2 linked regions of the Homo sapiens genome follow. The protein of the gene in region 1 interacts with the protein of each later gene in a biochemical or structural test. Each region holds a gene or a part of one and is shown on either strand. Other genes may lie near its edges. The genes, in order: SIGLEC10 and CD52.

Evidence for each region.
Region 2: the proteins of SIGLEC10 (region 1) and CD52 form a complex in vitro, tested with the Homo sapiens proteins (one large-scale study listed by IntAct).

Annotation. Positions count from the first base shown.
Region 1 is NC_000019.10:51,412,051-51,414,929, reverse strand, and holds part of SIGLEC10 (sialic acid-binding Ig-like lectin 10 isoform 1 precursor), read left to right. Parts: coding exon 1-106; intron 107-414; coding exon 415-508; intron 509-1,106; coding exon 1,107-1,218; intron 1,219-2,879. UniProt on the Homo sapiens protein: Putative adhesion molecule that mediates sialic-acid dependent binding to cells. Preferentially binds to alpha-2,3- or alpha-2,6-linked sialic acid. The sialic acid recognition site may be masked by cis interactions with sialic acids on the same cell surface.
Region 2 is NC_000001.11:26,316,506-26,320,892, forward strand, and holds CD52 (CAMPATH-1 antigen precursor), read left to right. Parts: upstream 1-1,452; 5' UTR 1,453-1,512; coding exon 1,513-1,566; exon of another isoform or gene 1,567-1,850; intron 1,851-3,665; coding exon 3,666-3,797; 3' UTR 3,798-4,018; downstream 4,019-4,387. UniProt on the Homo sapiens protein: May play a role in carrying and orienting carbohydrate, as well as having a more specific role.

The sequences.
Region 1 (2,879 bases):
AACAGCTCCCTGAGCCTCCATGGAGGGCTCAGCTCCGGCCTCAGGCTCCGCTGTGAGGCCTGGAACGTCCATGGGGCCCAGAGTGGATCCATCCTGCAGCTGCCAGGTTAGGGGGCCGCCTGGATGCCAAGGTTCTTGGAGGAGAAGCTGACTGGGGCAAAGAGTAGGGTCCTGTGGTTGGAGCAGGAGCTTGGAGGGACACAGCAGACCCGTGGCATCTGTATGTAGACAGGAAAACACAATGGGAAGTCCTAACACCTGGGCCGGGGTGTGGCAGGGTTTCCTAAAAGTAAACAGAGGGGTTGCAGATACAATGTCCGCCATGGGAACCGGAAGCCTTAATGCCGAGTGATGAGCGGGCTTCGTGAGCCCTGCGTGGATGGGAAATGCTCACCTTGCCCTCTCCGTGTGCAGATAAGAAGGGACTCATCTCAACGGCATTCTCCAACGGAGCGTTTCTGGGAATCGGCATCACGGCTCTTCTTTTCCTCTGCCTGGCCCTGATCATGTAGGTTAAGAGGAGGCGTGGCGGGGTCTGGGGCCTGGACCCAGGAAGAGGGGAGGTGTTGCAGGCCGAAAGAGTGAAGGTCGTGATCAACGCAGTATACCTCTGGAGGTTACATGAGTAAACAGCAAACTGTTCTCATAAATGCAGAATGTTGTCCAACTGACAAACTGCGTCTGCTTCCCAGAGGGAATGCTGAGGGCAGTCACGCCCCAAGCGAAGTGTTTCTTGTAATTAGGCACAGCTGAAGCTTGTTAGTAATAATATGAACCTGTGATCAATTAAACAGCTGACCAATTGTTACCTCCTGCTCTCTGCTCTTTCTACCCAATAAATACAAAGGGCTGTAGAGGCTCAGACAGCTGCCCTGGCTCACTAGTAGCAGGGAACCCTCTTCTTCTTCCCCTGACCCCTTCCTTTAAAATAATTTCTTTTGTCTTAAGTTTTCATTTCTACGTTTGTCCTCCTTCTTTCAGTCTCATAATGACGGTCTCAAGTGGTAACAGTAGTAACTGTCATAGTGACGGTCTCAGGTAGTAAACGTGGCAGTCTGTCACAGGGAGGTGCAGCAGGGCACAAACAGGTGGGTTCATTTCCTCAGCATGAAGATTCTACCGAAGAGACGGACTCAGACAGAAACCCCGAGGCCCAGGTTCTCCCGGCACAGCACGATCCTGGATTACATCAATGTGGTCCCGACGGCTGGCCCCCTGGTGAGTGTCTGGGCCATGCTTCCACTTTTTCTCTTCTCTAAAGCTGACATCCCACTTTCTGACTTTTGCACCCCTTGTCTTAGCGACATCAAGGTGGGAAAAGCACCGATAGTTCTGAATTCAAATCCTGCCTGGCACTTACTAGCTATGAGACCTCAGCCACGTCACTCACCCCCTCTGAGCCTTCATTTCTTCCTCTGTCTCCTTTGAGAGTTGGTTTGAGGATTAGAATACATGCACTTTCTCAATCTGTAGCCATTGTTCCATTATTACTGCCACCATTGACATGACTACACTTAACTGCTTAACAATTATGTGTATCATCGGGAGGCTGGGCATCCTAGGGATTCAGCACAGGGGGTCTGAAATCAGCCTGCATGGGTTCAAATCCTGCTGTCATCACTGTGTCATGAAACAAGTGTCTTAACTTCTCTGTGCCTCAATTTCTTTAGCTGTAACATGGAGACAATACTAGCGGCCACCTCCTAGGATGATGCTGGGTGTTAAATATATTGTACTTGCATAATAAAATATTCAGAATATCACCTGGCCCCTGGGTAATACTCTGTAAATTCTGGAAATTATTAAGAGATAACATCTTATGCTGATGACTGCAAAATTGTATCTCGTGGCTCCTTCCCTGAAGACTGTCTATGCAACATCTCCATGTGGGTGTCTAATCAGCACTTCAAACTTAGCCTGTCCAAAACCAACTTAAGATAATTCCCCAGCCTGAGCAACATAGTGAGACCTCTTCTCTACAAAAAAAATAAAAAATTAGCCGGGTGTGGTGGTGCATGCCCATTGTCCCAGCTACTTGGGAGGCTGAGGTGGGAGGATCTCTTGAGCCTGGGAGTTGGAGGCTACAGTGAGCCATGATGACACCATGCACTCCAGCCTGGGTGACAGAGTGAGACCCTGTCTCAAAAAAAAAAAGGCCACGCCTGCTGGCTCACACCTGTAATCCCAGCACTTTGGGAGGCCGAGGTGGGTGGATCGCCTGAGGTCAAAATTTTAAGAGCAGCGTGTTCAACATGGTGAAACCCCATCTCTACTAAACATACAAAAAATTACCTGGGCATGGTGATGGGTGCCTGTAATCACAGCTACTCGGGAGGCTGAGGCAGGAGAATTACTTGAACCCAGGAGGTGGAGGTTGCAGTGAGATCATGCCACTGCACTCCAGCCTGGGCAACAAGAGCGAAACTTCATCTAAAAAAAAAAAAAGACTAATTCCACCATTTATGCTCCATCTCTATCCCCATCTTAGCAAATAACACCACATTTTCCCAGCCAAGTCTAAAGCTTTAGAATCATATTTCACTCCTCTCTTCTCTGTCACCCCACAACCAATCCATCAGCAAATTCCCTTCAAAATACAACCAAGCCAGTTCTCCCTACTCTTCCCTCACTACTACAAGCCATGCATCAACACCCCCCACCCCACCCCGGGCACCACTGGCCCCTTCTGCATGCCTTCTCTGCTTCCGTTCTCACCCCCTCCAGTCTTTCTCTCCGTGCATGCATGCTATTCTTTATTTTATTTATTTTTATTTTATTTTATTTTTTGAGATGGGATTTCACTGTTGTTGTCTAGGCTGGAGTGCAGTGGCAAGGTCTCGGCTCACTGCAACCTCCACCTCCTGGTTCAAGCGATTCAT
Region 2 (4,387 bases), on another chromosome or scaffold:
GGGAATCAAGACTTAATGGATGAATTCTAGGGCAGCCCCAGAGGTTACATACATGGCTGTGGCTTCAGACAGACCTGGATTCAAGGTCAAATGAGACTGGCTCCACCATTTACGACCTTAGCAAGTCACTTAACATCTAAGCCTCAGTTTTTTCACCAGTCAAATGGGGATAAACATAACACCTGCTGCAGGGCACCACAGAGGGTATCAAGTGAGGGAATGCATAAAGCATGGAGCACTATCCAGGCAGCTGTGGGATTCCTCTCATCCCCCCACCCCTCCCTGGGCCCTCACAGCCACTCTCTCACCCCAGTCCCCTTCCACTGTAGCTTAGTCACCCACTTGTCCCTTCCCTCGCTCCCCTCCCATTCATCCTCAGCTAATACAAACAACCCATCTGCTTGCTACTTTCTCTACCAAAATCACAAAATTCTAGGTCTTGGCTGGGCGCGGTGGCTCATGCCTGTAATCCCAGCACTTTGGGAGGCCGAGGCAGGCGGATCACTTGAGATCAGGCATTCGAGACTAGCCTAGCCAACATGGTGAAACCCAGTCTCCGCTAAAAAAAAAAAAAAAATACAAAAAATTAGCCAGGCATGGTGGCACACACCTGTAGTCCCAGCTATGCGGGAGGCCAAGGCAGGATAATTGCTTGAACCCAGGAGGTGGAGGTTGCAGTAAGCCGAGATCATGCCAGTGCACAGAGCAAAACTCTGTTTAAAAAAAAAAACAAAAAAACCAACAACAACAAAACAAAACACTAGGTTTTAACAAACTTCAGAAATAATCTATTTCAGTCTTCCCAGTTCCTTGAAATGAGGAACTGAGGCCTAGAGAGGGAAAGCCCAACTGAAACCAGGCTTCCCGATTCCTCACCTCCAGCACCTTCACAGAAATCCACCAACCCTTCCACAATCTAAACATTTCCCAAGCTTTCATTCAGAACCTGCAGCCCATCTACAACCTTCCCTTGAAACATAAATCTATCCCAGCCCTTCTCCTTCAGCTCCTATACCCTGCCCCAATCTTCTTTAAACAACAAACTCATTTACGGAATATCTGCTATGTTCTGGCTCTTTTTAAATTGGTTATTATTACATGTAATCCGGCAGTTCTTTTGTTAAAGGGTCAGAGAGGTAGAGTTTCTGGCCCAGGGTCTCAGAGCTGGTCAGTGATTAAACCAGGATTCAGCCTGCAGGATGCATGATTCCAGGCCTTGGGCCCTACTTACTCCCACCGTTGCCTCTGGATTGACCTCTCTCCTATCTTGTACGATCTAGCCTGCTCCCCCAGCCAGGGCCTTAGAACCTAGAGCCTGGTATTATCCACCCCCAGATCTGCAGAAAGGAAGCCACACCCCTCCTCCACCTTGTAAGCCCTCCTTCCTCTCCCTACCTCACCCCGCCTCCTCTGCCTCCTGGTTCAAAAGCAGCTAAACCAAAAGAAGCCTCCAGACAGCCCTGAGATCACCTAAAAAGCTGCTACCAAGACAGCCACGAAGATCCTACCAAAATGAAGCGCTTCCTCTTCCTCCTACTCACCATCAGCCTCCTGGTTATGGTACAGGTAAGAGCAACGCCTGGCACCACTGCCAGGACTCCCCAAAGTTGCTTGGCATGGAGGGAGGGCATACAGGATGTGAGCTCCCAGAGACCCAGCCTTCTCTCCTGAGAGCACAGCAGATGGACTCCAACAGGAAAACTGGGGACACAGCGGGCCTGGCCGCCCAGCCTTCCAGCTCTTCTGGCTGGGGCTGCACTGCTTGCGGGCTGCCCTGAGAGAAACCTGTATCCACAGCTGGGGAGCACTTACAGGGTGCTAGGCGCGTTGGGGCACCCAAGGGGTGTTGTGGAATAATAGAGAACTAAGAGACTTGGGAAGACAACCCTGAGTGAGGAAGGCATCGGCCCACAGGGAGTCTGGGGAGATGGTCCTTTGGGGAGAGGCCAGGAGATGTCCAAGTGGAGCCTGCTGTGGTTATGGAGGTGACAGGGGACACTCTAACCCCCACTCCCCTGCCAGAGAGAAGCCTGGATGTTCAGGAATGCAAAGAAGACAGGACTCTCCCATTTCAGAAACAACTGGAGTCTCAAAAGCGACTGCTATTCCAGGAGGCAGCTTTGGTAGCATCCCAGGTGCCCAGAGGGGAGTCAGTACAGCAGACCGGAGCCATCAAGTTCTTGATCAAGAACAGCTTGATCACCATCAAAACCAGCTTAATCTCCATCAAGAACAGTTCTAGTTGCAGCTCCATCAAGCATTAAGGACAGCTCGATCACCATCTGGCCACTTCCCCACCCCACATCCAGCCACCCACGCTTTGCCAAGTGCTTTCTCACTCAGCCCTGGCTCATGTGACCTTCACAACTGTGATGAACTTCTCCCCACTCAGAAGATGAAACTGAGGCTCAGGGAAGCTAAGCCCTTTGCCAGGCTAGGAAGGTCAAGGGCCAGGGCTCCCCTGTCTCCCTCTATGCCAGAAGGGCTGGTCGCTGGGGAAAGGTGAAAAGAAAGGTTCTGTGACCGGGCACGGTGGCTCACGCCTATAATCCCAGCACTTTGGGAGGCCGAGGCAGGCGGATCACCTGAGGTCAGGAGTTCAAGACCAGCCTGGCCAACATGACAAAATCCCGTCTCTACTAAAAATACAAAAATTAGCTGGGCGAGCCGGGCGCGCTGGCTCGCGTCTGTAATCCCAGCACTTTGGGAGGCTGAGGCGGGTGGATCATGAGGTCAGGAGATCGAGACCATCCTGGCTAACACATTGAAACCTCGTCTCTACCATAAATACAAAAAGAAATTAGCCGGGCGTGGCGTGGTGGCGGGCGCCTGTAGTCCCAGCTACTCGGGAGGCTGAGGCAGGAGAATGGCGTGAACCTGGGGGTGAAGCTTGCAGTGAGCCGAGATCACGCCACTGCACTCCAGCCTGGGCGGGCGACAGAGCAAGACTCTGTCTCGGAAAAAAAAAAAAAATTAGCTGGGCGTGATAGCGGCTGCCTATAATCCCAGCTACTCGGGAGGTTGAGGGGTGGAGGTTGCAGTGACCCGAGATCATGCCACTTCACTCCAGCCTGGGCAAAAGAGCGAAACTCTATCTCAAAAAAACAGAAAGTTTCTGTGAAAGGGGGTGGACAGGGGCAGTGATCACCTCTGTCCCTGCCTGTGTCAAAGCAGGAAGCAGTCAAACATCCTGACAGGACCTTGTGGAAGAAGTAGTGGTCACATGGGGCAGAACTGAGGACTGTTTTATGGAGGTGGGCGGATGGAGGGCGGGGAGGGTAGAAAGGGGACTGCATCTTTAAATAACAAACACGCTATTCAAAAGTCCCCTGAGGGCTGGGTACGATGGCTCACACCTGTAATCCCAGTACTTTGGGAGGCCGAGGCGGGTGGATCACCAGGTCAGGAGTTCGAGACCAGCCTGACCAACATGGTGAAACCCCGTCTCTACTAAAAATAGAAAAATTAGCCGGGCGTGGTGGCACGTGCCTATAGTCCCAGCTACTCAGGAGGCTGAGGCAGGAGAATCACTTGAACCCGGGAGGTGGAGGATGCAGTGAGCCGAGATCGCATCACTGCAGTCCAGCCTGGGTGACAGAGTGAGACTCCACCTCTAAAAAAAAAAAAAAAAGTCCCCTGATCTTATCCCACTTCTCCTCCTACAGATACAAACTGGACTCTCAGGACAAAACGACACCAGCCAAACCAGCAGCCCCTCAGCATCCAGCAACATAAGCGGAGGCATTTTCCTTTTCTTCGTGGCCAATGCCATAATCCACCTCTTCTGCTTCAGTTGAGGTGACACGTCTCAGCCTTAGCCCTGTGCCCCCTGAAACAGCTGCCACCATCACTCGCAAGAGAATCCCCTCCATCTTTGGGAGGGGTTGATGCCAGACATCACCAGGTTGTAGAAGTTGACAGGCAGTGCCATGGGGGCAACAGCCAAAATAGGGGGGTAATGATGTAGGGGCCAAGCAGTGCCCAGCTGGGGGTCAATAAAGTTACCCTTGTACTTGCAGTGGGGTCCTGCTTGTGGTTACTGGACATCCCTACGCCCCAAGAGCCAGCTGTGCAGCAGCACCAGGGAGTTTCCCATGTCCCCATCAGCAGGGAAATTGGCACCAGGGAGCAGCCCCCAGCTTCCCCACCTAAATTCCAATGCTGAGGGCCCTTCCCCTTAGAAGCACATTGCAGGGACAAGGCCCAGAACCTGGCAGCCTCACCAACCCTGCAGTTGCGTTTGCTTCATCCATCCCTGGGTGTTTGGGAATGATGGTACTAGAGATGCCACCACCCTGGACATCCCAGGCTCAGAGAGCCCCTACCCCACTACCTGGGTGTCTTCAGAATGACAGATCCAGGGAAATCCCCAGTCCCAGGGACACCC